Linked DNA regions of Homo sapiens: region 2 is linked to region 1. The links come from fine-mapping of genetic effects on gene expression. Tissue or cell type: atrial appendage. Region 1 holds a variant in brackets; the other region holds the start of a gene. All regions are shown on one strand. Distances are from middle to middle. Region 1 overlaps ABCB4 (ATP binding cassette subfamily B member 4). Region 2 holds the start of ABCB4 (ATP binding cassette subfamily B member 4).

What was found. PIP is the estimated chance that this variant, and not a neighbour inherited with it, causes the effect.
Region 2: ABCB4 starts here. The variant in region 1 is fine-mapped to the expression of ABCB4 in atrial appendage (GTEx, PIP 0.97).

What each region holds. Positions count from the first base shown.
Region 1 is chr7:87,445,123-87,460,409 of GRCh38, forward strand. It overlaps ABCB4 (ATP binding cassette subfamily B member 4), which reads right to left. Exons shown (of 28, transcript NM_000443.4): 5 at 9,413-9,470; 6 at 7,822-8,013; 7 at 6,501-6,672; 8 at 4,846-4,970; 9 at 1,912-2,083. Among named protein-coding and RNA genes, the nearest start is that of ABCB4, 23 kb to the right of the region's middle. The variant T/C (reference allele first, on the strand shown) is at 3,541.
Region 2 is chr7:87,467,135-87,484,868 of GRCh38, forward strand. ABCB4 (ATP binding cassette subfamily B member 4) reads right to left here and starts at 8,546. Exons shown (of 28, transcript NM_000443.4): 1 at 8,500-8,546; 2 at 8,252-8,337; 3 at 5,487-5,541. The coding sequence starts at 8,331. RefSeq lists an enhancer at 7,733-7,802 and silencers at 8,273-8,412, 8,423-8,622, 8,673-8,922.

The DNA.
Region 1 (15,287 bases):
GGCTAATATAGCATTTTATTGCCTGAGTGGGTCTATTTTCTCAAACTACCTATTGTTCTCCTGAATACATACAGAGTTAAAAAGATTTTTCAAACCTATTTCATTGACTCACTCACAAATGCCACCAGAAAGAAACATTTTCAGTCAGTATTATTATTCCATCCTATATGATTTTCTCTAACTATGCATGGAATTACATAGACGGTTCAATATAAAACATGGCAGATTTTGGCCCTATGTAATGCTCCTAAAAAGCACCATGTCACATATATTTTTAAAGATTTTTAACATAAAAAGTAACAGTTTGCACATCATAAAACATAAAATCACTCCAGTGTGCACTGGTTAGCAATTCCTTTACACAGTTATTCTGTACTGTAGCATACAACACTTAACACATTTCCCTTCACAGTATTTTTTCACTAGGAAAATGAATTGATATAAAGAAGCTCAGAATACAGCTTCAGGAATCCAGATTATTAGCATAACTTAACTGAGAAAAACATAAGTGAAGATAAATTATTTTTTTCTCTCAGGGCATGGTAAAACTTCTACATATAATTTGGCTTTTCTCAAAACACAGCAACACTTCATGTTACCCATAACTCAAATATCAGTTAAATATCTATCCCCCATCTGCAATACAGATAAGGACCAGTAAGAAAGAAAAATAATGTTGACCAAAATAGTTGCCATAAGGTTAATGCAATAGAGTCCCTGCCCTCTATGCAGAGGGCTTTGCTTGGGCTCCCTCTGGGGATAGCAATCTCAGCCCTACCGGATAGGTGTCATTATCCACATACTACAAATGAGGAAATTAAGGCCATAGAGGACAAACTCATCACCAAAGGTGAACGGTTGTCAGGATTCAACCTCCCTTCTTCATAAAACATCAATAGTAAATGAGGAAGTGAAGAAAGGGTAGCAAGCTTCCAAACCGACTGCCAGAGAGAAGATGGAAGTGAGAAAAATTAGACTCAGCATTAATGAGGGCTCACCAAGTCGAACACCCACAACCTCTCAATGAAGTCTGAAGATACCACTGCATAAAGCATTCTGAAAATATTCACTTTCATAATGACCCCAAGTCATCATCAAAGGGCCAAATTATGCTCAGTATCCTCATTTTAGCAAGATAGGGAAGTACAGATGTTAAAAGATTTCTATTTAAATAGTTACATATTGTTCTGAGTCTCTGACATGAAAAGATGGTCACAAAATATTGGTAGTTCATAAATGTGGTTACAAAAAGATATACATAGTATGATCCCAGTTTTGAAAGAAAACAATGTGTATATATATAGAAAATGACCTGGAAGATATATGCCAAAAATTATCATCAAGAGAATATAAATTATTAGATTGTAAGTAATTTTAATTTTAAAAATTCTGTATCCTAATCCTTTGTAAAATTAGTATATATTATTTTAACAATCATAAAATGAAGCTATCTTCATTTTGATAAATAAAAACAAACTAACATAACATCTCTTCTTGTATTTCAGAGAGCTGATTGTTTTAAGTGATATAAATGTAACATTTTCTTGTGCAATGACCTATTCTGTAATAATGATGCTTACTTTCTTATACAATAAAACTCAACGGCAGAGGGAGGATGGCTCCCATCCATATTTGTTTATTCCTAAATTCATCCCATTTTTATTTCCTTTTATACATTGTATATGTTTCACAAATGGTCTAACCACATGCTATTTTCTTATCCACACTCATAATTATGACTTGTATATACTAGAAAGTCAGCTCTGCCCACTGGACAGTGGAAAGATTCACCAAAAACAAAAACCTATAATCATGTTCATCTTTCAAAAAGGAGCGATATCAAAGAAAAGAGAAGGTAGATGGAGAAATAAGATTTTCATATTCTTCATAAATGTTAGGAGAACTACTTACTGTCATTGCATTTCCAATAGTATATTCTTTTGATATGACTAGAGTGGATCCATACCAGAAGGCCAGTGCATATGATGCATATATTAACAGGAAGGCAATACCCATGGAAATGTTTGCTGAAATAGCTTTTTTAATTCCAATCTCTTTGGCATTTTCTAAATGTTTCTGATACCTACCAGAAAAATGAGAGGGAAAACATTATAATTAAGAATAACAATCCATAGTCCGAGTCACACTCGGCTCCTATATAGTTGGAGGTTTAAGTAACAAAGTCAGTCAAGGTAATGAACCCATGGTGAGACCCAGATCTTTGGGAATTGAACTAATTCAGGATCAGCCAGGCCTAGAACAGATCCAAGCCTTCTCTTTACTGGCCCGGTTCCATTTCCCTTCATCCATTCCAAGCCAACCAACATTCCTGTGGTTATTCCAGAATTGAGGGCTCACCCTGGGATATGGAAGAGCTTCTCCATCACCTTCACGGCAATATCACAAGTCAGGGTTAAGAGGGAATGAGAGAAACCAAGCCAAACCAGAATTGATTGTAAATGTCACTGGAACTCATAAACAGTTAGATTCTTAACTCTGGTCAATGTCTCTTCTCTGGAGAAAAGAAAATCGTCCCTCTATTGTCCACTGGGTGAGGGATGAAAATTTTACATGTTGTTGTACATAAACATAGGCTTCTCTCTTTGACTTTTTTAAAAATCAGGCTGACCTTCATCTGTCAAGCTAGATACAGGTTATAAGGTAGTCACTACTTATGGAATATGAGTTCTTATTCAATTTTTCCAGACTTTAGTTTCATATATGAAAAATGGATTTAATAATGCCTAATTTGCAAGATAATTGTGAGGTTGGTAGATAATTGTAGAAAGTAGTACAGTAGCTGGTTCATAGTTAGCAAGCCTGATCATTTCTCTTACTATTATATTAGTATCATTGTGTTCAACTTTTATCTCTTCCTGAGTTTTGCTCATTCTATTACTATCATATCTTTGAATCATAATTCAAATGCATTATTACTGGCTGCTGGCATTTGATATAAAGTTTAAAATATCTAGAATGATTCTGTTAAATTACAATTTTTTTTCATCAAGTTAAATCAAATCTACTTTTTCATACTAGACCCAGAGGGTATGTAAAATTTAATTTGGGCTCCCTGAAATTTAAAGAAAAATCCAATGGGTATGCAATGACACTTCGAGGGGAAAATATCACACAAACTAGGATATTTTTCTTTGTGACAAAAAAAAACAAAAAACAAAACACAGCAACACCAGTTTTAGTGTTGAACCAAATAAAACATGAGAATTCATTAGTCTTTTAAAAAACATATTCTGCCATCAGAAGGTTTGTCTTTTTTATTGCGTAAAGCACCCAGGTCTTCAGGGTGCTTTCCTCTGGTTGGGGGCTGCATTCATAGAGCACAGCTGCATCTCTGGGGGTAGCCAGCAGGCCACAGCTAGCGCTGTGATTTCTCCTGTGTGGCTGAGCCTCAAGGCGTGGCAGGAAGACTTGCATCTGCCCAGTGTGACACACAGCTCCAGTGACAGCAGCGGACACACTGTAATTACCTTTGCTTAGGTGGCTCGCTTACCGGGGCTAATGGAGCGGCACAGATTACAC[T/C]GACATCCTGAGGTCCAACTGAGGGTTAGTGTGGTCTGTGTGGACTATTATGTACAGGAAGCAGCAGTGAGAGAGAAAAAAGGAAGAGGTTAGAGGATCAGAAACATGTTGGCTTTGAAGAGGGATTAAGGAATAGAAAAGTAGAAAATTAAATGGGGGGAATAAGGGAAACTTTGTTTTTAATGCTAGAGAATTTCCAGAGAATTTTTATATCCAAGAGTTGTGAGTATCAAGAGTCCCATAGAATAGCCAAAGAAAATACTTTATATGGAATCATACTTCAACTACAGTAGGGGATATTGTTATTTAAATAAAACCCTAAGTAATTATTTTCATTTAAGTAGAGCAGAATAGCCTTTTTCATAGGTGTATTCTTATCCCCAAACTCATTGAGATATACACACTAAAGATGTATACACAGCTTTTCATATGTCAATCATGCCTTGATAATTTTTTCAGAGAAGAGTTTGCAACATGCCTCCAGATACTGGTCAATTTTCCAGGCTTATCCTGGATCATTAAAGTTGAATGCCAGAGGCCTGGGTGGGAAGCCCTGCCTCATTGTTATGGAGGACCCACAAGGCCCTACAAAGAATTCTGGGCTATAACTAGGAAGTCGATGTTTTCTCAGGTTTTTCTCTTCTATATTCCAGTTCATAGTCATTAAGGAGTAAAATAAAATAAAAAATATTTTGATAAGTATTTTTAATATAATTATTTTCCTTTGTAACCCTACTTATTTTGTTTTTTGGGGCTTTTATTTATTTATTTTTTGGTTTTTAAAAAATTTTTACTCTTTTTTTGTGATAGAGGCTCACTCTATCATCCAGGCTGGAGTTCAGCTCACTGCACCCTTGACATTCTGGGCTCAAGGGATTCTCCTGCCTCAGCCTCCTGAGTAGCTGGGACCACAGGTGCACACCACCACACTCAGCTTATTAAAAAAAAAAAAAATTGTAGAGCCAGGGTCTTACTACATTGCCCAGGCTGGTCTTGAGCTCCTGGATTCCAGCTACCCTCCTGCCTTGGCTTCCCAAAGGGCTAGCATATTTTGGTTTATGCATTTAAAAACAAGGGAGTCCATTTGTATTATCACATAGCCAAAAGAGTCCATGGAACATAAATGATTAAGAATCTTGCTTTAGAGTCTGACATTCAACTATAGCCATCAGTAAAGGGTGCTTATAATTTATGCGAGAAGGGTTAATATTAGGAAAGGGAAGGTAAAAAACACATACCACAAAGAAGAAGCAACAAAATGTAAAAACACATTCCTTAAACCAGTGGCTAAAGAACCTTCCTGACCTTTCCAGCTCTTTGTTCTGGCCCCCGAAAGCTATCACAGTCCTGATGGCCCCCAGAGCCTCTTCTGCCACGGCGCCTGCTTTTGCATAAGCAGCTAGTTCTTTGTCACTAAATGCCGAGAGTATCTGGACAGAAAAGAAACAGTGATCACTTTTGTATAGGGAGAAAAGTTTAAAGGCACTCTGGTCAACCCTTTAACCTACTTTTTCTTCCCAAACCCTCTCCTTTAACAAATATTAAAGTCATGTAGCAAATGCCAGTGTTCTGGATCCAATGGCTGCGTCCACATCCCTCAAAGGCTATATCTGACCCACCCTGGTGATAGGCTCCCCAAGAGTACTCAGGAAAAAAGAAAATCCACACATAATTCTCTAAATAGCACTCTTGGGAACACTGTCAAGTTCCACATCTACTGTTTTTCTTTGTTAGTTGTAAGGTAAAATAAAATAAAACTTTACTGCTTTGAAAGAATTTACCATTCTTAACTTTATTGTGTCACAATTTTTTTTTTTTTTTTTTTTGAGACGGGGTCTCACTCTGTTGCCCAGACTGGAGTGCAGTGGCACGATCTCGGCTCACTGTAACCTCTGCCTCCCAGTTTCAAGTGATTCTTCTGCCTCAGCCTCCCGAGTAGCTGGGACTACAAGTGCACACCACCACGCCTGGCTAATTATTTGTATTTTTAGTAGAGACAGGGTTTCACTGTGTTAGCCAGGATGGTCTCAATCTCCTGACCTCGTGATCCACCCACTTTGGACTTGTGTCACAATTTTTAATTACTATAAAAACAATACTTCCAGACCTCCTCATGGGCATTCTGCTGAATAATAAGATAGCCAAACAAGATGTTTCAGGAGAAAAGCAAAGGAAGAATCAAAACAAAAGAGATACAGGTAGTTCACTGTGTAAATCATCAACGTCAGGATGAGCAAAAATTGCCAGTAAAATTTCTCAACTCTGAAGTGTTGGCTAAAGTAGAATACATTTTGTGTATTTTATTGCCAGGCAAAACTGGCAGAGTGCCACTTAACCATCACAGGTAATGATTAAAACAAATAGAACAAATACAAACTCTATTTAAAATTTTTATGTTCATGCAATAATTTGAGGGAAATGTTATATTTTAAAGTTGCACTTCCTTAACTAAGGGTAATCGAAGTAAGAACTGTGAATTTTTTTTTTTTTTGAGATGAAGTCTTACTCTGTCACCCAAGCTGGAGTGAAGTGGCATGATCTGGGCTCACTGCGACCTCCACCTCCTGAGTTCAGCGATTCTCCTGTCTCAGCCTCCCAAGTAGCTGGGATTACAGTCATGCACCACCACGCAAGGCTAGTTTTTCATATTTTTAGTAGAGACAGAGTTTTGCCATGTTGTCCAGGCTGGTCTGGAACTCCTGACCTCAAGTGATTTATGTACCTTGGCCTCCCAAAGTGCTGGGATACAGGAATGAGTCACCACACCCAGCCTGTGACATTTTGAATTATGTTAAAAATTAATTTCCTTATGAAAGCATCATATTAACACCATGTTACTGGATGTAGTTTCAACTGACATTTAATGTAGACCTGAACAGGTACAAGTACGAGACTTCTGCATATTAAAGATTACTGTGTGCAGGGGTTAACACACATAAAAAGGCCCAGCTTTCACATACCTTTGCCCAAACGGCTGCAGAGAGTCCTAGAATAGGGCTGATGGCCATTATCACAAGGGTGAGCTTCCATCCTCTGATGAATCCCACTATGAATCCTGCAAAAAACGTGGCTACTGCTTGAAAGAACATTCCAACCTTGTCACCAATTCCTTCACTGATTTTGGAGATGTCACTAAAAAAGATCACACCTAAGTGGTTACAGGCAGGAGGTTTCAGTTAGAAAGATGAAGTAGACATCCAACAAACACATAGACAAGTAAAATTTGTTCACTGACTGCAAGCCTCTTTCAGAGTCTTAGCCTCTTGAATAACATCTTCCCCACCTAAACACCGCACAAAGGAAGAAATTCAGGATTGATCAATGCTTCTAATAAGTTAGTATCATTAAGTTGATACTATTAAATGAGTCAATCCTATGAGAGAAGCATTAACATTTTGAGCATAAAAATGTATCTGTTTAAAAGCAAGAATTAAGAAGAACATTGCAACAATAATAAGCAACAGTAGTAGGGAAGTATTACTGCATTTCTTCTTATAGGGAAGTAATAGGGAAGAGATCTTTGCTTCTACTCTTGTCCCTATTCCCAACCAAGTCTATTCTCAACACAGCAGCCAGTGGGATGCTTTGAAAATGCAAGTCTGACCATGCTACTCCTCAGCTCAGAAACTTCCAGCGGCTGCCATTTCACTGGGTGAAAGCTGAAGTCTTGAAGTCTTTGTGGAGGTTTACAAGGCCCTAAATGTCTTGCTTTTCCCTTTTTTTTTTTTTTTTTTTTGACTTATTTGCTCAGGATGCCTTTGCCAGGACTCCCAGTCAGGAAAGTTTATCATCTATCTCCCTCTACTGGAATGTAAGCACCAAAAGGACAGAGATCTGTGCTTTGTTCACTGATATATTACGAACACACAGAATGGTACTTCGCACATGAAACACCCTCAAATATTTGTTGAATAAGTGAAGAGTTGACAATTACTAAAGCAAGTCTCTTTGTAAATTAATTCAATCATCTATTCATTGATTCAACCATCTTTACTGACAGTCTAGCACCTGTCACGTCCTGCAGTAGAAAGTTCCATGAGAAATAAACAGGTATAAGATGTGAATTCAGTCCTCAAATAAACCTACTATGCACCTTGGGGGAAAGCCAACATGCAATGGCATAGGCTATAGATGCTGCTAGACATGGCTGCCAGATGATCGATTTCTAATATAGATCAGATGCTCAATCTAGTAACATTTTTCATTTAAAATCTTTCCTTGACATATTTTCACACAGTAATTAATTTCTATATGAAAGTGTGACATTAACAATGTACCTACTCTGTTAGCCGCGTATTGAGTTCAGTGGTGTCGTTGATGTCAAACCATCCTATTTCCTGTCGTAGAATAGCATGAAAAAACTTCTGCCTAATTTTCCTGATCTGTCGACCAGCTGCCAAAGTCCAAAATGAAACTTGTATATAGGCAGCAACAAGAACTCCAGCACCCAATCCTGAGTAGTAATATGCATATCTGAAAAAAAAGAGAAAGGCTCTATTAAATACCTTCTCTTTTCTTTTTTCTTTTCTTTTCTTTTCTGAAACTGAGTCTCACTCTGTCACCCAGGCTGGAGTGCAGTGGCACCATCTCAGCTCACTGCAACCTCCGCCTCCTGGATTCAAGTGATTCTCCTGCCTCAGCCTCCCGAGTAGCTGGGATTACAGGCATGCACCACCATACCTGGCTAATTTTTGTATTTTTAGTGGAGATGGGGTTTCACCATGTTGGCCAGGCTGGTCTCGAACTCCTGACCTCAAGTGATCTGCTCACCTCCGCCTCCCAAAGTGCTGGGATTATAGCATGAGCCACCACCCCCACCCTACCATCCTTTATTCATCTCTTTCAGGAGAAATTTTCAGAACTGGAAATTAATCAATTTACTAAACTTAAAACAAAAACTGTATAGGACATTATAACAAACAGACATTACATTTTTCTTTTTTTAAATTATAAAGTGATGAGCTCCATGATGGCAAATCTATTTACTTGAACTGTTAGCCAAAGAAAATGGATAAATTTTTGTTGTTAACTGCAAAAAAGTTAATGATTTGTTTTTAACTGATATTGATAACTTGTGGATACAATTTAACTCCTCTTTAATAATTATATTCTAGACTTGTATATCTTATTGTACTGAAAAGTTCACTACTATTTACATATTGCAAATATAGTAATAAGCAGATTGAACATGTGAAATCGCCCTTTCCATATTGATTTTTCCACATTCTTTATAAAAAGAACCAAAAAACTTTGTTCCTATTTGTCAGAATTTGAAATATTTTAAAAAAAGATATGATAAAATGTCATGAATTCAAACGAATTTGGAATGTTTTACCAAATTAGTAGAAAGTTAGTATTTTAAAAAATAATAAGTACATATCAATACTTTCAAATTTTTATTATCTAATTTTATAAACTGCTTCCAGATAGACACCTTTCAGGCCTTTTAGCATACAGACAGCACTCGTTACAATCAGCAACACTGCTATGCAGACATACAAACATCATGCTTACAGGCTTTAGAGATTTCTATTGAGAAACTAGAAGGAGGAGAAAATGCCATAAATGACATTATTGGATCAAATGACAAAATTGGAATATAGATGTTATATTAGATAAAAGTACTGAAATTTACTGAAGCTAATAGCTGTACTGTGATTATGTAAGAAAATATCCTTATTCTTAGGAGTCATACTGCAGTAAAGGGCCATGATGTGTGCATCTTACTTTAAATTGGGATTTGGGAGCAAAAATGATAATAATAGGTGAATCTGGGTAAAGAGTACACGTTATTTGTATATTCTTATAACTCTGTAATTGGAAATTATCTTCAAATGAAACTTTAAAAAAGTAGACCATATATATGAGTTACCTAGTCATTTCTTCTTCCAGAATTTTGCCTGGATTTAGCAGCGACAAGGAAAAGTTCACTAAATTAAAAAATAAAATAAAACATGTTAAAAGATCAAACTATTAATAGGCATTGCCAGGTTTTTAAAAATCTGTTAATAATTTAAATGTATGAAAGCTAGAAGATGCTATTGTTAAGTTTCTCTTTAAAAAACACTTTTCTTTGCACACTTAAGTGCATTCTTTTCACTTTACTCAAGTAAAGAGCCCAAGGGTTTAGGTACTGGACATTAAGGGCCAAGAAAGGGGAAGATAAGCCCTCCCAGGTCTTTCCCCCATCCTGGCGGTCTCAGCCTTTAGCAAAGCAGCCTTCTAAGGAGGCACAGAGGAGCCACTGAAGAGACAAGGAAGCCACAAAACACACAGAAGACAGAGGAGGGAATAAGAAATATTTAAAATAGAAAACACAGGATTTAAGAGGCATTTTTTTTTTTTGGTGGCTCAAAGCACTTTATAGAACTTCAATAAATTTTATTTTTATATCTGTGTGTTTTTTCTTTACATGTCTCATATGACATAAGTAAGGGAAAGGCTAAGTTACATCCATCGCAAAGGAGGAAAAACTAGACAGGGAAGATAACTTAGTTGCTCAAAGGCATGTCAGTGATCACTGGCAATTAGTGAACATCCTGCATTCCACCTCTTGTTTACCAGCACTGCTGTATTCTAGTATTTTTTGAAGCAGTATTAATTGGAAAGAAATCTATTGTCTATTAATTTGAGCTAATTTGATAAAATGTCAATGTATCTTTCCTGATTTCCATGTTTTAATAATAGCTAATGTTTATTGAGCATTTATTAAATACCAGGCACTGCTCTGAATACTTTAGGTGTGTTAATTCATTTAATTATCTTATGAGGTGAGACTATTTCACAAACCCCATTTTATAGAATAGGAAATGGAGGCACAGATAAATAAAGTAACTTACTCAATGTCATACAGCTAGTAAGTGGCAGAGCTGAAAGTCAGCCCAGGCAATTTGGCCTATGCTCGTAACACTATACTATACTGATTTATTCATGTGACAATGACTTATTTTTATTTTTTAGAAAAGACAAATGAAAAAATAAGAAACAGCCTACATCTACTGCATTCACAAAATAATAGGATAAAATATCACCACAGCATTGTTGAGAAAACACATCAGGGTACATATTTCTCATTTTCCATGGTCCTAGGAGAGAAATTGGTCTCTTTGTTCCTTTGCCATGTGTAAATAGCCCAGGGGTCGTGTTTTCGTGTTTTCGTGGTGCTGTGTATCCTCCTTATCTTTTTCCAAAGAAAGATAAGGTTGAAACTTATTTAAAACTCAAACTACTGTCAGGATCAATTACCAGGCATCTGGCCCCAACTGCAGCATCATCTTTCCCCCAGGATTATAATTTCTACTGATGTTCACAGTGAAATTTCCGATTATTAATCTAGCTCTTTATAAGCTATCAGAACCTTGAAGATTCATACCCTATTTTACTTTTCATCTTATCAGTTCCTTTCTGTGTGTTCATTTCCATCCTGAAGTTTTAAATAGGGCAAATTGGAAGAGTATTTGGAACTAGAGGCAGGCAAGCTATTCTAAAGCTGTGGCATTTGTAAAAATCATTGTGGTTTTTTTATTTCCCTGAACTGAAAAATTGGGTGAAATCTTAAATAAGTTTTTCCTCTCTTTCAACACCTACCTCAAACTTTTAAATTCTCTCAATAAGGATACTGATATGGTTTGGATATTTGTTCCCTCCAAATCTCACGTTGAAATGTGATCCTCAGTGTTGGAGGTGGGGCCTGATGGGAGGTGTTTGGGTCAAGGGGACAGATCCCACATGAATGGCTTGGTGCCCTCCCTGAGATAATGAGCGAGTTCTCACTCAGTTCATGTGACAGCTGGTTGTTAAAGAGAGCCTGGCCTCTCCCTCCTGCTCCCTCTCTCTCCATGTGACACATCTGCTCCCCATTCACCTTCCCTCACTGAGTAAAAGCTTCCTGAGGCTTTGCCAGAAGCCCCAAACAGATGTGGGTACCATACTTTTACAGCCTGCTGAACCATGAGCCAAATAAACATATTTTCTTCATAAATTACCCAGTCTCAGGTATTCCTTCCTAGCAACACAAAATGGACTAACACAGATACCAACTCAAATTGACTCTCCCTCCTAGGAAAGAATCTATGAGCGTTCCAGATTGGACCCGCTCCTTTCTCAGAGTCTCAAGAATGGAAATCTAGTGCTGGGTTAGTAACCTGAGGAGCTCCAGAGTCCCCGGGGAAACTCAGAGTTTCTGCTGCCTGGGACAAAGGTGAACTAAACATATGTTGGTGTGTTGCCTGAAAAGTCATGGCCTGCTAGATCTGAAAAGAGCCTACTCCTGGTCTTGTCAGATGCTACCTATTCTGCTTCAGTCTCATAAACGATATCTACATGGTCATTTGGCTTGGTGGTACTTAACGCTGTCTGTGCATTAGAATTACATGGGGAGCTTAAGAATTACAGATGTTCAGGCTCCACTCAAGCCCAATGCAGCCAGAATCTCTGGTTGAGTCCAGAGCATCACATTTTTATAAAGTGCCCCCCGCCAGGCCCGGTGGCTCACACCTATAATTACAGCACTTTGGGAGGCTGAGGCGGGAGGATCACTTGAGGCCAGGAGTTTGAGACCAGCCTGGGCAACGTGGTGAAATCCACCTTTACAAAAAGTTGGCCGGGCATGGTGGCAGGTGCCTGTAGTCCCAGCTACACAGGAGACTGAAGCAGGAGGATTACTTGAGCCCAGGAGCTCAAGGCTGGAGTGAGCTATGATCACTTCACTGCACTCTAGCCTGGGCAACAGAGCAAGACCCTGTCTCAAAAAAGAAAAAGTACCCTGGTTGATTCTAATATGCCAGGATGGAGAACTTACACCCCAGTCCACCTGAATGCCTCCCGTAGTAAGGAACTGGGGAACTCCTGAAGCTGCCTGTTCATTTTAGAGAGTACCTATATAACCTATCCATTTTACAGATGAAGAGACAGAGTGGGTTGTTTCATTTCCAAGTTCTTATAGCTAGTTTGTCCCAATATTTATTGATCATTTACTATGTTCCAGACACTTTACACAAATCATCTCACTTAATTCTATCAGTAAATTGATGCTTACCTCTCAAAGATGAGAACAGTAAGGATTATAGAGGTTAAGAGACTTGCTCATGGTCACACAGCTTATGGGTGAAGGGTCTGAATAAGCAGTGTATACATTAAGGATTAGATAGGGAAACATAGTCTTCATTTTCACTTTTGAGTCTCAAAGTAAATCAATGTCTGCCTTCCCGGATTCTGCCCAAGACTTCTTTTTTTTTCAAAGGGGAAGAAAGAGAGGTATCCATCACCTCAAGCATCTCTCCTTTCTTTGTGTTACAAACAATCCAATTATGTACTTTTAGTTATTTTTAAATGTTGCCTAGGACTTCTTTTAACACATAGAACTATTCATTATAAAATAAAGAGCTGGTGTTTGTTCAGGCACCCTAGGCACTATGGACAGTTATGAAGATATCTTGGGGGCTCAAAATGGCATTTTTCCCCTCAAACAAGAGGCAATGCAAGGACAATCAGGGTGCAGCTATTTTCCCGCAGAATTTTCTAGACTATTATAGTCACAGAGACAGCATAAAAGATATCAAGTCCTTGACACTCTGCAGAAAAACTGTTTTCTCCAACTCCGTCCTTAATGTTTTGGATGCAGAATGTTGTGTGCATACTTTCTGCACAACTGACTCATTGTGAGGGAACAACCCTGTCATGGAGTGGCTTTATTCTGTTGACAAGGACGAGCTTTGCTCACAATAAGTCATTGTCAGACCCTCTTGTAATATGAACCTTTTTTTCTTCTAACATGCCTTTCTCATTTGGCTCCTATTAAGTCTGGTTGTCCAAGCATCCAACAATTCTAAAGAATAGACTAAGTAAACATCTCTAAGAGATAAGCTGGAACCTCAGCTAAGTACCTCACTCTATCTGTTCCCAACCCCCATGATTTTTGTTAAACTCTACAACTCTCAACACATCAATAAGCAGTCTGGATTTAGAGTGAGTATCCTTTAAAGATTTCATTGTCTTCTAAGAGGTATGAGAATATTATTTTTACAAACGACCAAAGAGTGGATGCTGGAAATTCATAACATTTGAGGAACTTTCCATCTAAATACTCCATAGCATCCAGTAAGCCTAATGAGAAACATGGCTACAGGGTACCAAGCATCATAACAGGAGTGTTTATAATTCGGAGGCTACCAAAACAAAGTTGGCAACTCTCGCGAGTTTATCTCTGTGTCAACCACAGTTCTGTAAGTGACTTGCTTGTGCCATTCCCCAGAGAGACCTTGAATTTGGCACCTCTCTGCCATGTCCAGCTTAAAGCCATTCAGTTTCATAATTAGGCACAAGTTAAAAAAAAAAAAAAAAGCAAACTGCTCCAAATAAGAAAGTTGGGAATTATTCTGGTATTAGTAAAAACAAAAACAGAACTAATAAAATTGGTCCAAAAGAGAAATGATGTGTGATAAGTGAATTGCATTGCTTTAATCTGACTTTAAAAATTTTAATTGTGATAAAATACCTTACATAAAGTTTACCATGTTAACTATTTTTAAGTGTACAGTTCAGTACTGTTAAGTATATTCACACTGTTGTCCAGCCAACCTCCAGAACTTTTTCAACTTGCAAAATTGAAATTCTATACCCATTAAACAACAGCTCCCCACTGCTCCTCCCCACAACCCCTATTAACCACCATTCCACTTGCGTTCTTATGAATTTTACTCTAGATACCTCATAAAAGTAGAATCGAACAGTATTTATCTTTTTTTGAGTGGCTCATTTCATTTAGCGTCATGTCCTCAAGGTTCATCTATGACATAGCATATGTCAGAAGTTATTTCCCTTCAAAAGGCTGAATAATATTCCATTGTATGTATCTACCATATCTTATTTTTCCATTCATCTGTTAATCTGATTTTTTTAACCCTGTGTAGAAGCCATTTAAAATTTTTTTTTTACTTTAAATTTATTTTTTCTTGGTAAAGGTGTATACGTCAACAGTTACAAGCGAGAATACAGGGAGACATCACACCCACCCATTTTCAAAGCCACTCACTTTCTCTCCCTAGAAGTAATCATCAGTTTCTCTACATTATTTCACAGATATTTTATGGACATATAAGTGCTTCGCTGGAAGGCTAATGTGAGTCACCAAGAGATAATATCTGCGACACTTGAAAAGAGGTGCTAGACCATACATGAACAGATAAAGTTGGGTCTTATTCCACAAAAATATTCCATTGGTGCTCTAATAAATGGTGCTTTATGGTTTGAAGATCAGGAAATGTGAAACCCAAAGATAATTTCAAAGTAGGGGCAGTGGAGATATGGTGCTGACAATTCAGGAGTTGGAGAAACGTCTTTGTAGTTTCTTTGATTTTTTTTTTCCAGATGAAATAAGATGGAAATCAAAGGCAGCTGGTGTAAGTTCCTATACAGTCATTGTCCTGCTACTAAAGGGATGGGTGAGAAACCCAGCTCCGCATCTGGAAGGTCAGACCATTTAATAGACCCTTGAGTATTAATGTGCATAAATGCATCTCTGATTCACTGTGGGGAAGGAAATGTCTTGCTAAAATACCATTGCTAATTCAGTGGGTCCAGATGTGGCCTGGGAGTCTGCATTTCTTTTTTCTTTTCTTTTTAAAATAATTTCAATTTTTATTTTAGATTCAGGGGGTATATGTGCAGTTCTGTTACATGGGGATACTGTGTGATGCTGAGGTTTGGGATATGAATGATCCTGTCACCCAGGTAGTGAGCATAATACC
Region 2 (17,734 bases), 23 kb after region 1:
GTGCTGTATTCAGGAAACCCATCTCACGTGCAGAGACACACATAGGCTCAAAAGAAAGGGATGGAGGAAGATCTACCAAGCAAATGGAAAACAAAAAAAGGCAGGGATTGCAATCCTAGTCTCTGATAAAACAGAATTTAAACCAACAAAGATCAAAAGAGACAAAGAAGGCCATTACATAATGGTAAACGGATCAATTCAACAAGAAGAACTAACTATCCTAAATATATATATTCACCCAATACAGGAGCACCAAGATTCATAAAGCAAGTCCTTAGATACCTACAAAGAGACTCCCACACAATAATAATGGGAGACTTTAAGACCCCACTATCAGCATTAGACAGATCAACGAGACAGAAGTTAACAAGGATATCCAGGAATTGAACTCAGCTCTGCACCAAGTGGACCTAATAGACATCTACAGAACTCTCCACCCCAAATCAACAGAATATACATTCTTCTCAGCACCACACTGCACTTACTCCAAAATTGACCACGTAGTTGGAAGTAAAGCACTCCTCAGCAAATGTAAAAGAACAGAAATTATAACAAACTGTGTCTCAGACCACAGTGCAATCAAACTAGAACTCAGGATTAAGAAACTCACTCAAAACCGCTCAACTACATGGAAACTGAACAACCTGCTCCTGAACGACTACTGGGCACATAACGAAATGAAGGCAGAAATAAAGATGTTCTTTGAAACCAATGAGAACAAAGACACAACATACCAGAATCTCTGGGACACATTTAAAGCAGTGGGTAGAGGGAAATTAATAGCACTAAATGCCCACAAGAGAAAGCAGGAAAGGTGTAAAATTGACACCCTAACATCACAATTAAAAGAACTAGAGAAGCATGAGCAAACACATTCAAAAGCTAGCAGAAGGCAAGAAATAACTAAGATCAGAGCAGAACTGAAGGAGATAGAGACATAAAAAACCCTTCAAAAAGTCAATGAATCCAGGAGCTGGTTTTTTGAAAAGATCAACAAAATTGATTGACTGCTAGCAAGACCAATAAAGAAGAAAAGAGAGAAGAATCAAATAGACGCAATAAAAAATGATAAAGGGGATATCACCACTGATATCACAGAAATACAAACTACCATCAGAGAATACTGTAAACACCCCTACATAAATAAACTAGAAAATCTAGAAGAAATGGATAAATTCCTCAACACATACACCCTCCCAAGACTAAACCAGGAAGAAGTTGAATCTCTGAATAGACCAATAACGGGCTCTGAAATTAATAGCTTACCAACCAAAAAAAGTCCAGGACCAGACAGAATCACAGCCGAATTCTACCAGAGGTACAAGGAGGAACTGGTACCATTCCTTCTGAAACTATTCCAATCAATAGAAAAAGAGGGAATCCTCCCTAACTCATTTTATGAGGCCAGCATCATCCTGATACCAAAGCCTGGCAGAGTCACAACAAAAAAAGAGAATTTTAGACCAATATCCCTGACGAACATCAATGCAAAAATCCTCAATAAAATACTGGCAAACCGTGGGCGCGGTGGCTCACGCCTATAATCGCAGCACTTTGGGAGGCTGAGGCGGGCGGATCACAAGGTCAAGAGATCAAGACCATCCTGGCTAACATGGTGAAACCCTGTCTCTACTAAAAATACAAAAACTAGCCAGGCGTGGTGGTGGGGACCTGTAGTCTCAGCTACTCGAGAGGCTGAGGCAGGAGAATGGCGTGAACCCGGGAGGCGCAGCTTGCAGTGAGCCCAGATAGCGCCACTACAGTCCGGCCTGGGCGAAACAGCGCAACTCCGTCTCAAAAAATAAATAAATAAAATAAAATAAAATAAAATAAAATAAAATAAAATACTGGCAAACCGAATCCAGCAGCACATCAAAAAGCTTATCCACCATGATCAAGTGGGCTTCACCCCTGGGATGCAAGGCTGGTTCAACATACACAAATCAATAAACGTAATACAGCATATAAACAGAACCAAAGAAAAAAACCACATTATTATCTCAATAGATGCAGAAAAGGCCTTTGACAAAATTCAACAGCCATTCATGCTAAAAACTCTCAATAAATTAGGTATTGATGGGAGGTATCTAAACATAATAAGAGCTATTTATGACAAACCCATAGCCAATATCATACTGAATGGGAAAAACTGGAAGCATTCCCTTTGAAAATTGGCACAAGACAGGATGCCCTCTCTCACCACTCCTATTCAACATAGTGTTGGAAGTTCTGGCCAGGGCAATCAGGCAGAAGAAAGAAAGAAAGGGTATTCAATTAGGAAAAGAGGAAGTAAAACTGTCCCTGTTTGCAGATGACATGACTGTATATCTAGAAAACCCCATTGTCTCAGCCCAAAGCCTCCTTAAGCTGATAAGCAACTTCAGCAAAGTCTCAGGATACAAAATCAATGTGCAAAAATCACAAGCATTCTTATACATCAATAACAGACAGAGAGCCAAATCATGAGTGAACTCCCATTCACAATTGCTTCAAAGAGAATAAAATACCTAGGAATCCAACTTACAAGGGATGTGAAGGACCTCTTCAAGGAGAACTACAAACCACTGCTCAACGAAATAAAAGAGGACACAAACAAATGGAAGAACATTCCATGCTCATGGATAGGAAGAATCAATATCGTGAAAATGGCCATACTGCCCAAGGTAATTTATAGATTCAATGCCATCCCCATCAAGCTACCAATGACTTTCTTCATAGAATTGGAAAAAACTACTTTAAAGTTAATATGGAACCAAAAAAGAGCCTGCATTGGCAAGTCAATCCTAAGCTAAAAGAACAAAGCTGGAGGCATCATGCTACCTGACTTCAAACTATACTACAAGGCTACAGTAACCAAAACAGCATGGTACTGGTACCAAAACAGAGATATAGACCAATGGAACAGAACAGAGCCCTCAGAAATAATACCATACATCTACAACTATCTGATCTTTGACAAACCTGACAAAAACAAGAAATGGGAAAAGGATTCCCTATTTAACAAATGGTGCTGGGAAAACTGGCTAGCCATATGTAGAAAGCTGAAACTGGATCCCTTCCTTACACCTTATACAAACATTAATTCAAGATGGATTAAAGACTTACATGTTAGACCTAAAACCATAAAAACCCTAGAAGAAAACCTAGGCAATACCATTCAGGACATAGGCATGGTCAAGGAGTTCATGTCTAAAACACCAAAAGCAAAGGCAACAAAAGCCAAAATTGACAAAAATGGGATCTAATTAAACTAAAGAGCTTCTGCACAGCAAAAGAAACTATCATTAGAGTGAACTGGCAACCTACAGAATGGGAGAAAATTTTTGCAATCTACTCATCTGACAAAGGGCTAGTATCCAGAATCTACAAAGAACTCAAACAAATTTACAAGAAAAAAACAACCCCACCAACAAGTGGGTGAAGGATATGAACAGACACTCCTCAAAAGAAGACATTTATGCAGCCAATAGACACATGAAAAAATGCTCATGATCACTGGCCATCAGAGAAATGCAAATCAAAACCACAATGAGATACCATCTCACACCAGTTAGAATGGCAATCATTAAAAAGTCAGGAAACAACAGGTGCTGGAGAGGATGTGGAGAAATAGGAACACTTTTACACTATTGGTGGGACTGTAAACTAGTTCAACCATTGTGGAAGACAGTGTGGTGATTCCTCAAGGATCTAGAACTAGAAATATCATTTGACCCAGCCATCCCATTACTAGGTATATACCCAAAGGAATATAAATCATGCTGCTATACAGACACATGCACAAGTATGTTTATTGCAGCACTATTCACAATAGCAAAGACTTGGAACCAACCCAAATGTCCAACAATGATAGACTGGATTAAGAAAATGTGGCACATATACACCATGGAATACTATGCAGCCATAAAAAATGATGAGTTCATGTCCTTTGTAGGGACATGGATGAAGCTGGAAACCATCCTCAGCAAACTATCGCAAGGACAAAAAACCAAACACCTCATGTTCTCACTCACAGGTGGGAACTGAACAATGAGAACACTTGGACACAGGAAGGGGAACATCACACACCGGGGCCTATTGTGGGGTGGGGGGATGGGGGAGGGATAGCATTAGGAGATATACCTAATGTAAATGACAAGTTAATGGGTGCAGCACACCAACATGGCACATGTATACATATGTAACAAACCTGCACGTTATGCACATGTACCCTAGAACTTAAAGTATAATTTAAACAAATTTAAAAAAATAAAGAAAAAAAAACTTCTAAAAAAATAAATAAAACCAGCTTTCATTTGATAAACAATTTATTCTCCAAAGTGCTAATTTTTTTTTAAATTGCCCTTACTGAGGCTTTTTAAACAAATAAAAAAAGAGGAGAGAAGACAATGAATAGGGGCTTTTGGTTACATGAGAAGTATGCAGCAGTGTTTGAGAGTGTGGATGTTTTGGTGTCTTTTTATCCATTTAATTACTAAGTTGGATTTCAGCTGACATGACACTTAATTCTAACTTCTTTGCTACCAAATAATGGCTGTCACAGTTTGAAACACGTCATATTTACCAAAAATGGGCAAATGCTTTCTTGAGCTGCCTCTGTAAGACATATTTCAAATGAAAACCAGATGAGGAGACTTCTTCCAAAAATATTGTCTTGTCTTGTACCAACAGAAAAGCACCGAAAACTGTTTTAAGCATAATCAGAATTCCTAATAGTTACCCCCTATTTAGCCAATTTTTTGGAAACCAAATGTGAATGTAGATTCCTTAAATTAAAATTTATGTACTTAACAATTACTTTCTTGAAATGCAAGCTTATTTTAAGCTAAATTTGGGGTGGGGGTCTGTGAAGCAAATGCAGAAATGCATTTTCTTGAAATTGTTGAGTTTGCATTGTGCTACTAACACAATTCCCATTTTCACTTTCCTTGCACACCAGTTAGCTCTGTCCGGTGTCATCGCCAGCCTGTCTCTACTTTTTAAAAAATCATCCATCTTAAGAATGTGGGTCATTGACTATAATAAGCCAAACTTATACAGCACAGGTGCAGCAAGGACAATTTATTGCTGTCTGCAGACAGTTTTTTGTTGTCGTTGTTTTTGAGACAGGGTCTTGCTCTGCCACCCAGGCTGGAGTGCAGTGGTGTGATCATAACTCACTGCAGCCTCAGACTCCTAAGACCCTCCTGCCTCAGCCTCCCAAGTAGCTGGGACTACAGGTTCATGCCATGACATATGCTATTTTTTAAGATTTTTATTTTTATTATTTTGTAGAGATGAGATCTCACTATGTTGTCCAGGCTGGTCTCAAACTCTTGTGCTCAAGCAACCCTCCCACCTCAGTCTCCCAAAGTGCTGGGATTACAAGTATGAGTCAGCTCGCCTAGCTAGACAATCTTAAAGTATTTGCTTTAAAGGTAATTGATTCAATACCTCAAATTTGAATAAAAGGTAGGATTATTCACATTTAACATTTCACAGCTTACCAATGTTAATACTCCAATCATTTTCACTGTCTTCGTTTTTTTCCTTTTTTGTTTGCTGTAAAAAATAGAATTGCTTCAATTTAAAACTGTTACAAAATGTTTTACAATCAATTGAACATAAATATGTTTAGTTACAATATTCAACTATTATATTTTCAAATATAAGAGTGATGTTCACAAAATGTCAAAATTATTCAGTTCAACAAACATAGCAAGCACAAAAGTAACTGTCGAAGGTACTACAAAGATACATGGATACATAAGAAATGGTCGCCTGCCTTACAGAGCTCACATACACAGGAAAGATAAGTATGCTAACAGTGTCGCTAAGTCAATTAAGTTATTTGTTTTCTAAAATTAAAAAAAATCATGATTTAAAATTAGGAATGTCTATTCTTCTGAAGGATTGTGGAGAGTGGTGTCAGGCAATCTTGTTGGTGATACATTCAAAGTACATCTAGAATTTAACCACTTATCACCAGTTTCATTGCTGTCACCAGTAGGGCAGCCTCCTGCCTAGTCTCTCCACTTCCACCTATGCCGCTTCAGTCTATCTTCAACTAGCAGTCAGAGTAATTATTTCAAAATGCCAAGCCATACACTACTTCTTTGCTCAAAAACCTACAATGGCTTTCCTTTTTCTTACAATAAAAGCCAAAATCCTTGCATTAACCTCTGAGGTCCTACACGATCTGTTTGCTTATTTCCTCTCTGACCACATCCCTACTCCCAAACCTGCTTACTCTGCTCCAACCAGCCTGGACTCTCTGCTGTTCCATGAACTCACCAAACATGTACCTGACTCAGGGTCTTTGCATTGCCAGTTACCTTTTCCGGGAATGCTCTCCCCTTAGATACCCACACAGCTGTCTCCTCTCATTTCTTTCAAGTCTTTGCTCAAATATTACCTTTAAAATAAGATCTACCCTAACCACCCTACTTAAAATTACAAAGTACTCCCCTTTTGTACTCCTGATCCCCTTAACCTGGATTAATGCTTTTTTCCATGGCGTTAATTACCTTCTAACATTGGCTGTGGTTTACTTATTTAGTATGTACATTATTTATGTCTGTCCTCCGTACTATAATATAAACTCTATGAGGGAGTGTGTGTGTGTGTGTGTGTATGATGATTTATATATATATGATGATTTTTACATAAATATGATGCATTTATCCAGGTAAATGATAAAGTTTTACTCATAAGATGATTCCAAATTATGTAAAGTATTGACTAAAATCACTGGACAAACATCTGCCACTAAATATGTTCAAAAGAATGTGCCATGGGCAATAGCAACATAATTAGAACAAGAATATAACTAATTTGATTGAAGCAGGCTTAACTTCCTTTAAATATATTATCTTTGGTCTGCTTTTATAAAAATTAGTTTCACTACATTTGATTTCATAATCATGTGGTCTTAACTTATTGTTAACTTTCTGTATTTCTCTTTTGAGCTGCTTTCTTCTTTCCAGCAGAAGCTGTGGGCTTCCCCTCTGAGGACTTTCCTGGGTTCTGAAGTGTTACTACACCTTTTGTAGGAATAGCTCCTTTGCACACGCATCAAATGTTAAGCCAGTGCAATACATAAATAGACTTCTTCATGAAAATGCCATCTATTAATAGACTCACAGTCAATCCCTGCCTAAACAGCCAGCTGATGAAAACCATATTTTTCTATTGCGTGTGTAAGTACTTCCATTGGAAGTAACACCATCTATCACTTTTTCAATTCTACATGGCAAAACTAAATTTTCTATGAAAAAATACAATGGTGCTTAGAAGAAATACAGCAAGGTTACTGCACAACCACATTAACAGGCTAAAATAATGCTTCAGTTTAAGCATCAGGTAGGCATGTTTTCAGTTAGCTAATCAAGCCCCTAGCAGCTTGAGGACAAACTACAGAGACTGATAAATTTGTCCCTCTGGGTGATCACTTGACACAGGTCAATTTTTTCTGGGTAGCCTGGTATGAACTCAGAGACCGTAATAGCCTCATAAACTATTTCAGGCTAAAGGCGAAAATGATTCACTATTCCCACAGTGAAAGAGGAAACAAAGACACACGCCATTGACTGGGAACTTCTGCCCCGCTCATAAAGCCTGTGAAGTGAGTTTAACAAGGGCCAGGGGAACCGAGAAAGACATGAAGGCAAAGGAAGCGCTGCTTCCCCCTACCACTTGAACAAAACTGATTCGGATGTACAGAAGTTCCCCCTCCCCACCTATCCTCCCAGAAAGGAGAAATACAAATAAGCCTGGCGATGAGAGGAGGGGGAGGGGTAAGACAAGGAGGAAGAGACATAACAGGGGATGGGCAGGAGGGGAGGGAGTTTTTGCTTCACTGCCCTTGTTCAAAAAGCACAGCCATCAACAGCAGATGTCTGACACCCTTTAAGTCTGAACAATCAGATGATGTATATGAAAGTCATTTGTAAAAGTTTCAAGAGTTACGTAATACAATGAATGTTATACAATGCAGATATTCATTGAATCCCCCCTGCACAAAGGGAAGGGAGCACTTTTCAAGACAGCCTTTTCTTCCTGAATCTGTTCCAAAAGGAGCCTCAGTGACATTCTTTGAGGCCACACAACACGTTTGCTCCAAGGTCAGAACCGGATGCAAGACCCTTCAAAGAAGCCTCCAAAACAAAGGTCTTCAAAGGCATCAACCGATTTTTACAACTTCTTTCCAAGGGTGAACTTAGTCCTGCTGATTGGCGTGTAACGGAAAAGCCAGTGGCTGCTGGGGATGTACCTGCTGATGCCCAGTTCAAAGTCGCCCTCCGCGCTCGTGGGGCGCCAGGCTGTTCCGTTCTTTGCCGCCTCAAGATCCATCTCAGCCTGAGGAGAAACCACAGCCTCAGAACCAAGTACACCCTCTCCGGCGGCCCGGCGCACGAGTCGCGGGGCCCGGGGGCACTGGGTGGAGGTCCGGCCACTCCCGCCCCGCGCCCCACGTCCCGGGTCTCCCTTCGAGGCCAGACGCGCCCGGACCTCTCTCACCTCGAACCTCGCGCGTGTCTGGCAGGGCCTCTGGACGCGCGGGCGCTGCAGCAGAGGGGCCTGGACTTTGCTCGCCGCGGCCTCGCCCCCGCCCCCGCCCCCGCCCCCCACGCGCGTCCGGCCCGGGAAACGCCTACCGTTGCAGCCAGGGCGAGGGCCGCGGCCCGCGAGAGCAGCTCCCGCCGCCCGCCCAGCTCTCTCCCCAGGCTAGGCGCGGGCCAGGGGCGCAGCCTGCCGCTCTTGCCGCCGGGGCGCCCGGCTGGGGCCGCCGCCCACCCTGGCGACCCGCCAGAACCAGCCCGGTCGCAGGATAAGACCGAGATCAGGCTGGAGCCTCGGGTGCCGAGAAAGCCTCGCCTGATGGGCCACCCAAGCCCCTGCAGATGACTGTCACACCCCATGGGCGCTCAGTTTTGTTTTTAAACCCATAGGGGAGACAGTTTCCGGACGCCCAACAATCACAGGGCGGCCCAGGACCGAGAGAGAGCAATAGACTCGCCTCTTGCTTCCGCATCCCCAGTTCTGGTCCAGGTGGCACTGAACCCAATTATCTCCAAGGACGGCGAGAGTCAGCCAGGGCCGGCAGGAACCATCACATTATGCTCCTTGGGGAGGAGGAACGCTGTTGGTGCCCTCTTAGCACTTAAGAGACACAGAGTTTTAGGGCTAGAGGGGTCTTCAGCGATCATCTAATTAAAACCCCGTATGTTTAACATATGAAGAAACGGATGCCCAGAGAGGTGAAGTCCTGCCTGAGGCTGCATCGGTGGAACCAGAGTCTAGGGGAAGCCTCCTGAGTCCCAGTCCAGTGCCCTGGCTCACTGCTCTCATCTAAGACTTCTGTCTGTATTGAATTGTCTCTGCTCCTACCACCTATTTGAGTATGACTTTCTTCTTTCTGATTAATTCCTCCACACTCTTCCCAAAAGGAAGTGTCTAAAACGGGGAGCCATAAGTTTCATGGCTTTGAAACCGGAGACTTTCAAACTCAGAGCTTCACATCTTATTAACTATGTGACTTTGGACACTGTGCTCATTTCTCTAGGCCTGTTTCCTTATATGTAAAATGAGGATAAAAACATCTCCCTTATCAGGTTATTGCGAGGAATAAATGAGTTGAGGATAAGGGAATTAAGTACTAGGTAAAAGCACCTAGTACTATGCCTAAAACATAGTAGGTGAGCAACAAATACAACTTTCCTTCCTTCTGATCAGGTAGCAGGATGACCAGTGGGTCCTTGCACCTGCTATGTCCTGTTAACACAATTGTTAGCCCAAGGCTTGTCTGAGTTCTCAGAGAACCTTAAAGCAGAGCATGGTATAAGTAGAGATGCTGGGTGGACCCTGGTGTGAATCTCACCTTTCCCATGTACCAGCTGTCTGGCCAGGTTATGTAATTCTTGACTCAGTCATTGGATCTATAAAATAAGGGTGTTATTAGGATTAGGGATACTGTGTGTAAAGTGTCCTGCACGTAGGAGACACCTAATAAATGGTGACTATTATTATAGTAAAAGTTCAGGCGAGGCCAAGGAAGAAAGACTGGAACAGGAGCCAGCAGCTTCGGCACTCACCCCTTACTTGTGCTGTGCCTCTGCATCCTGCTCTGCCTGCCACCTGGAGCTAAGGTGGAACTTGACTTGAAACTGCATGCTGGAGTAGAAATGAATTTAGTTGAGTATTTTTCCTCAAAATGTTTTCTCTCCATATCAGTCTACCATGACCATGAGGATTCTCTTCTTAAATCAACCCAAATTCCTTCCCTTCACTGGTCTAACAGGCGGTCAGATCATTATTTCAAGATACTCTGAGACGGAAGCAGTTGGAATTGTGTAGTTTGAAAGAAGGCTTGTGGTGACTGGAGGACATTATTAAACTCATTAGCACATAAGGAGATGACAGTTTCTTCAGTCTCTAATAAAAGAGAATTTGATAAAGTAAATGCAGATACTTGAAGGAGTAGGAAGGTTCAGAACAAAAACTAAAGCAAATAACATGTATGAGGCAATGAGGTGTATTTGCCTGTCTGTCTGTCTGAGCCGATTCACAAAGTTGTCCCTGCAAGAAGCCATGCCTATATGGCTGTGTTTACTTCTTTACCTGTATTACATCCAATTCCAGGAGCTCCTTTTATATTTATTTGATAACAGTGCAGTATCACTGAGAATTCCATCATTTATTCATCAACTAGAAGTTGAAGACTTACAATATTTAAAGCACTATGATAAACTAGATTTCTCCATTACACTCAGGCTGTAAGAAATCTTTACTTTCCCTTTACAGTAGAATATTGAGATACTTATGCATTGATGTAAGGCTGGAATTAATGCCCTACCACGCTATCTTACTTTTTCTATTTGCCCCATTGGTTCCATCTTTCTTTTTTATCCTCACTTTTGCCTTATTTTAGATCTGTTTAATATTATCATTTAGATTTCCTTTCTATAAGATGTATTCTTTTATTTTCTATTTAATAATGATCTCCTTTCTAGGGATTATGACATGTATCTTTGACTAATCATTGTACTTTTTCCTCTTCCAGGACAATGCAATGATTTTAGAACTCTTAAGTCTCTTTTTTATTCACCCCTAACTTTTACATTGCCATTGTCATGTACTTTAATTTTCTCTGTATATTCATGACTCTTCTGGGAATATTATTTCTTTATGAGTTGATACTTATTTAGCTTTATCAAAACATTTATCATTTTCTTGCTTTTTGTTTCTTCCTACATCTCAAAGCTACCCTCTTGGATCATTTTCCTTTCACCTAATGAGCACTCTTTCATCTACTGTCTCTTTCTTGTTTTCTTTAGTTTGTGACAAATTTTCTCAGCTTTTTTTTCCTGAAAATTTATTTCACTTTTATCTTGAAAAATTATCAGTTATTTATGGGTTTGCCTTACTAAATAAATATCAAAACTCATTATCAAACTATGGTAATTAGAGACATGTGTTTTGGAATGAGACAGACAAAGTAAAACAGAATCAATATCTTATAACTGATGGAACTAGAATTCGAATCCAGGGAGTATCCTTATCCGCTATGACTAGCAGGGAAGTGGAGATGGAGAACATACGTCAGATGTATCAGAGAGTTAAACACAGTCATTCTTTAATGCATCCTTCAGTCCACTGATCTTACCACCTTTTTACTGTTCCTCACCTCCTTCATGTCTTCTCTCTTAACTCAGCCTGAAAACACCCACAACCCTCTAGCCCTCTCTCTTTATCAGGCTTGCTTAGTAAAACCACAATCCTGGATAATTCAAGTTACTGAGCTACTGTGAACCTACACCATGCAGCAGAACATGTCTGAAGAAAAATACAAAGTCATCGGGCTTGCCTCGCCATGAACTTACATGGCCCTATACTGTATACATAATGTACTTATTATGTTTATTATTTATTGCCCACTCTGTGGGATGCAAGACTTATGAGGGCAAAGATTTTGTAAAATTCACTATGTATCCCAACGTTTACTGACCAATAGTCATAAGATGTTTTCTTAGTTCATTCACTCACCTGCTTTTCTAATAATTATTTCATATCGTCTGTTTTCTCAAATTCTGTTCTTTTACATCTTCACATTCTGCTAAATTACCGTGCTTATTTCACTGATGAAGTTGAAGTGTTTAGAATGGAACTCCATAACCTCCTACCATGATATTTTTCCACTTACCAGCATCTGTACCAACACTCTGCCTTTGCTGTTTCTGTAAATGAACTATTCATGCCTCTCTTTGCAGCCAGTCTTTGTTTGCATGTTCATCCTGTAGATCCCATCCCCTTTCACTTTCACAAGGAGCCATTCTTCCCTTTCTGTCCTATATCATCAATTTCCCCATGCCTGCTGGATCCCTCCTGTGAGCTTACATACATACTGTTATTTCTTCCATCTTGAAAAACAAACAAAAAACCTCTCTTGACCACACTTCCCCTGCCAGCTACCATCATATTTCCCTCTTTTCCTTTGGAGCTAAACTGGTTGGCAAAGTTTATTACTTTCTTCAATTCCTGTTGTTCTCTCTGAAACCCACTCTAAACAGAAGTTTGATCTTTCCACACTACCGAAACTATTTTTATAAAAGTCACTGATAATCTCTGCTTTGCTAAGTCCAAAGATCAATTCTCTGTTCTTATTTTACCTGACAAATTCAATAATTTGACAGATTTATCACTCTGTCTTTCTGAATATATCTTTTTCATATAGATTCCAGGACACCATATGTTTCTCGGATTTTCCTATGCTTTCCTGATCACTCTTCCTCAGTCTCCTTTGATGCCTTCTCTCTCTCTCTTTTTTTCAACTACTTACCTAACACTGGAGTGGTCCAAGGCTCATTCCTTGGACTTCTCAGTCTATTCTCGCCACTTCTGTCATGTCAGTCAGTCACACAGCTTTAAATACCATCTGTATCGAATAATTTCTAACTTTTTGTTTCTAGCCTAAAATTCCCTCTTGCATTCCTGACTCTTAAACACAAGTGCATCTTTGACATTCCTATCTGGATGTTTAACAGACATCTCAAGCTTAACATGCCTAACCTGCTCCTGATCCTTTCCCCAGGCTGGGCCCTCCAGTGAACTTCTGCATCCAGTTGGCAGCTCCAGACTTATAGTTGTCAACAAAAACACTGGAATCATCCTGCATTCCTCTCTTTCTTTGACACACCATAATCAATCTGTCAGGAAATCTTGTTGCCTTTACTTTCAAAATATATTCAGAATCTGACCTTTGCCCTGCACCTCCAGCTCTACCACCATCATGCAAGCCACTATCATCTCCACCTGATTTTCTATAATAGCTTGTTAATTGTCTCTCTGCCTCTGTCCTTTCCTCCTCTTCCGCCTTTGTCCATTGTCAAAAGCATGGCCTGGATGATTCTTTTGAAATGTGAGTCACATCACATCACTCTTCTCTTCACATTTCTGTGGTAGCCCCCAATTCACTCAGTCATGGCCTACAATGCTGTGCCCTCTCCGTGACCTCTCTGATCTCATTTTTATTTATTTTGTCTTTGCCTAACTCCACTCCAGCCACACTGGCCTCTTGGATATTACTCAGACAAGAGAGGCAGCACTCCACCTCAGGGTGTTTGTACTAGTTGTTCCCCCTGTCCAAAATTATCCTCCCCAAAATACTGACATGGAGGACACTCTCACCTCCTAAAAATCTCTTCTCAATTAGAAGTTGGATCTTGTACCCTCAGGACTCTCAGTTCCTCTTATCCTACTTTGATTTTCTTTTCCACAGCATTTATCACCTTCTAGTATACTATATCATTAAAGAATTTATTATGCTTATTGTCTCTTGTCATCTTAGTAGCACATAAGAGCCGTGAGAGTAAAAATATTAATATGTTTTCATTTCATTCGCTGGAATATCCAATAATTGCTGCCCACACTTACTATGTGCAAGGACCTGGGCTAAGGTTTTAGGATAAAAAGTTTTAGGCATATAAAGAAGGATTTAAACAAGGCTAATGCAAAAGTTACTCAGATTATATAGTATTTTATGAATTTACAGAGCCTATCACACATATATATCATCTCATTTGATTCTCAAAACAAGGAGCATGTTCAAGGTAAACAAGTGAGGAACTATTATTCTCAGTTTAGAGGTGGGGATATCAAAGTGAATTTTACACAGCTAGTAAACAATGGAATTAGGCTTCCAGCTCTGGCCACGTGACTTCAGCTTCTCATTCTGTATTCCTATTGAAGACCACTGTTAGACAGAAGCCTTACCTGTTGTATTTCTAGTGCCCACAGCACCAGTGGGCTCAGTAAATGTGTATTGAATAGATCAATATTTTTGAACTATAGCATAAAAGGGTTTGTACAAAAAGAATTTCCTATAAGTAAGAGTCAACAGAGAATAACAAATTCCATCTACCAAAGTATTTTCAAATTATATTCAAATATAAATTAATTAGCAACAATTTTTCCTAAAGAGGGTGCTATGATGGACTCTATTCTCTGTCCTGTTGACTTATATCTTGACAAATATGCTCTGTGGTCTTTTCCCCCACTATATTGCATTTGTGGCTATCTAACAATTCTCCAAATTTTCATGTCTGAAGATAGTGAAAATTTGACTATTCTGTTTGCACTTGGCTGCACTTAACTACTCTTGAATCATTTCCAAACTTTTGGTCACTAATGTTTTTTACTTCTGCTCAAACTACCTTCTCAGAGTTTATAGATCTTAATTTTTCCTGCCTTTACTTCCTTCAACCCATGTTACATCTTATACTTCTCCCAAAGTTTTTTTTTCTTTTTTAAAAAACCCTTCTCATTGCTTGACTCAGAAATTTTTTGCTTTGCCTTTGACCTTTCTCTTAAAAATATTATTTCCTTTTGGTTTCGTTCTTCTTTTGTTCATTATAAAATTCATCTAATTCGGCCCAGCACACCCAAAGGCACTCATAAAGATGTTGAAGACAAGGGTAATACTGATTCAGCTCTCTCTCTCTCTGTTTTCCACTAAACTCTTCCTTATACCTTCATAAACTAGGGTGGACTTGCAAAGGTACCATGACAAGAAGTAGTTAGAAGAATTTGCTATTAATCACTATGTTATATCATTTCTGCCAACGTGGATTAATGGGCACATTGAGAGTTCCAAGGTCACATTGCCTAATGAAATTCTTGTGTTCTGTGAGAGTAATGAAAACCACTGGGTGGACAGGGAGGGCTGCAAGGTGCCAAGGCCAACGATGAAATGGATAAGCAAGAGTAGGGTCACTAGGCTTAAGGTTATTGACATTTACTAACTCTTAAAGTTATTCTAAAGCTAACGCTTTTCAAAATAAAAGAATGACTAAAGGAAGTTCTCTAAATAGAAAATTATAAACAGGAGAAACTTAGAATATCTAGAATAAAGAACATGGTCAAGAAAAATATTGGTAAATACAAGAAACTTTCCTCTTCCTATTGAGTTTTCTAAATTATTTTTTATGGGTGAAGCAAAAATTATATCACTGTCTGATGTGGTTCTAAATATAAGTAAGGGAAATACATAAGACAATTACAAGTGAATGAGAGAGAGTAAAGGGATATAAGGGAGATAAGATTTCTACACTTCACTCAAACAAGTAAAATGATGAAAATAGTAAAGTATGATAAGTTATTTATATATAATGCAATACTCAGAGGACCACTAAAAAATCTACACAAATAGATATAGTCAAGACTACCACAGGTAGAGAAGAAGGGCAGGGCAAGATGGCTGAATAGAAGGATCTACTGATTGTCCCTCTCTACAAGAACACTAAATTTAAACAACTATCTATACACAAAAAGCAACTTTATAAAAGCCAAAAATCAGATGAGCACTCATAGTTCCTAGTTTTAACTTCATATCGCTGAAAGAGGCATTGAAGAGGGTAGGAAAGACAGTCTTGAATTGCTGATGCCACCCTTCATCCTCCCAGCAGTGGCCACATTGTGCGGAGAGAAAAGCTATGTGTTTGGGAGAGGGAGAGCACAGAGATTGTGAGACTGTGCATTGAACTCAGTGCTTCCCTGTCACAGTATAAAGCAAAGCTGGGCTGAACTCAGTTGACACCTGCCCACAGAGGGAGCATTTAGATCAGGCCTAGCCAGAGGGGAATCACCCATCCCAGTTGTCGGAACTTGAGTTCCATCAAGCTTCATCACTGTGGGCTAAAATGCCTTGGGGCTCTAAATAAACTTGAAAGTCAGTGTAGGCCACAAGGACTGCAACTCCTAGGTGATTTCTAGTGCTAAGCTGAGCTCAGAGCCAGTGGACTTGGGGAGGCACATGACCTACGGAGACACCAGCTGGGGCAGCTAAGGAAATGGCTTGCACCACCCTTCCCCCAACCCCAGGCAGCATAGCTCATGGCTCCAAAAGAGATTCCTTCCTTCTGCTTGAGGAGAGGAAAGGGAAGAGTAAAGAGGACTTTATTTTGCATCTTGGTTACCAGCTTAGCCACAGTAGGATAGGGGACTGGTCAGAGTCATGAGACTCACATCCCAGGCCCTAGCTCCTGGACATTTCTAGACATACGCTGGACAAGAAGGGAATCTACTGCTTTGAAGGGAAGGAACCAGTCCTAGCAGGACTCATTACTTGCTGACCTTTGGGCCCCGAATAACCATCAGTGATGCCCAGATAGTACGCCATGGACATGGACCTTGGGTAGGACTCTGAGATGTGCTGGCTTTAGGTAAGATCCAGCACATTACCCGCTATGGTGGCGGTGGTGAGAGACTCTTTGCTTGAGAAAAGCAGGTGGAAAAGTAAAGGAGACTTTGTATTGCACCTTAGGTACCAATTCGGCCACAGGGTCAAAGCACCAAGCAGGCTCTTGGAATCCAGGCCTTGGCTCTTTTATGGCATTTCTGGACCCGCCATGAGCAGAGGGTGCCCACTGCCCTAAAGAATGAGTTCCAGACCGGGCAGCATTCACCACAAGCTGATTGAAAAACCTTTGTGCCTTAAGTGAACCGTGGCAGTAGCCTGGAAGTACTCCCCTGGGCCTGTGGTGGTGAAGGCCAGGGGGCGAGGCTCTCCTGCCTGTGGAAAGGGGAGGGAAGAATGTGTCTAGTGGTTTGAGTGCCAACTAAACTGCACACCAAGTAGATTTCTAAGGATTCTGACTCCAGTCTCTGGCTCTCAGACTACACCTCTCAACCTACCCAGGGCCTGGGGGAACTCACCACCCTGAAGGGAAGGATACAAACGTGGCTAGATTTACTACCAGCTGATTATAGAGCCCCAAGGTCTTGAGCACACATTGGTAGCCAGGTAGTGGTTACATCAGGCCTTGAGCAAGATGCAGTACTGTGCTGATTTCAGGTCTGTCCTAGTGCAGCCCCAGTGGTGTAGCCACAGAGGAACTTGTGTCATCCCACCCCAAGCTCCAGGATGTCCAGCACAGAAAAAGAGAGAGGGAGAGAGAGAGAGAGAGAATTTGTTTGTTTGGGAGAAAGTAAAAGAAGACAACAAGAGTCTCTGCCTGGTAAGAAATTTTCTGGATCTTATCCAAGACCATCAAGGCAGTACCTCTATAAGTCTGTAAGAAACCACAATGTTACTGGGCTTAGGGTGCTCCCTAATGCAGATACAGCTTAGATCAAAATACCCAAGTACTTTCAAACACCTAGAAAAGCCTTCTCAAGAAAGATGGGTACAAACAAGCTCGGGCTGCAAAGACCAAAATAAATACCTAACACTTCAATGCCCATATACTGACCGATACCT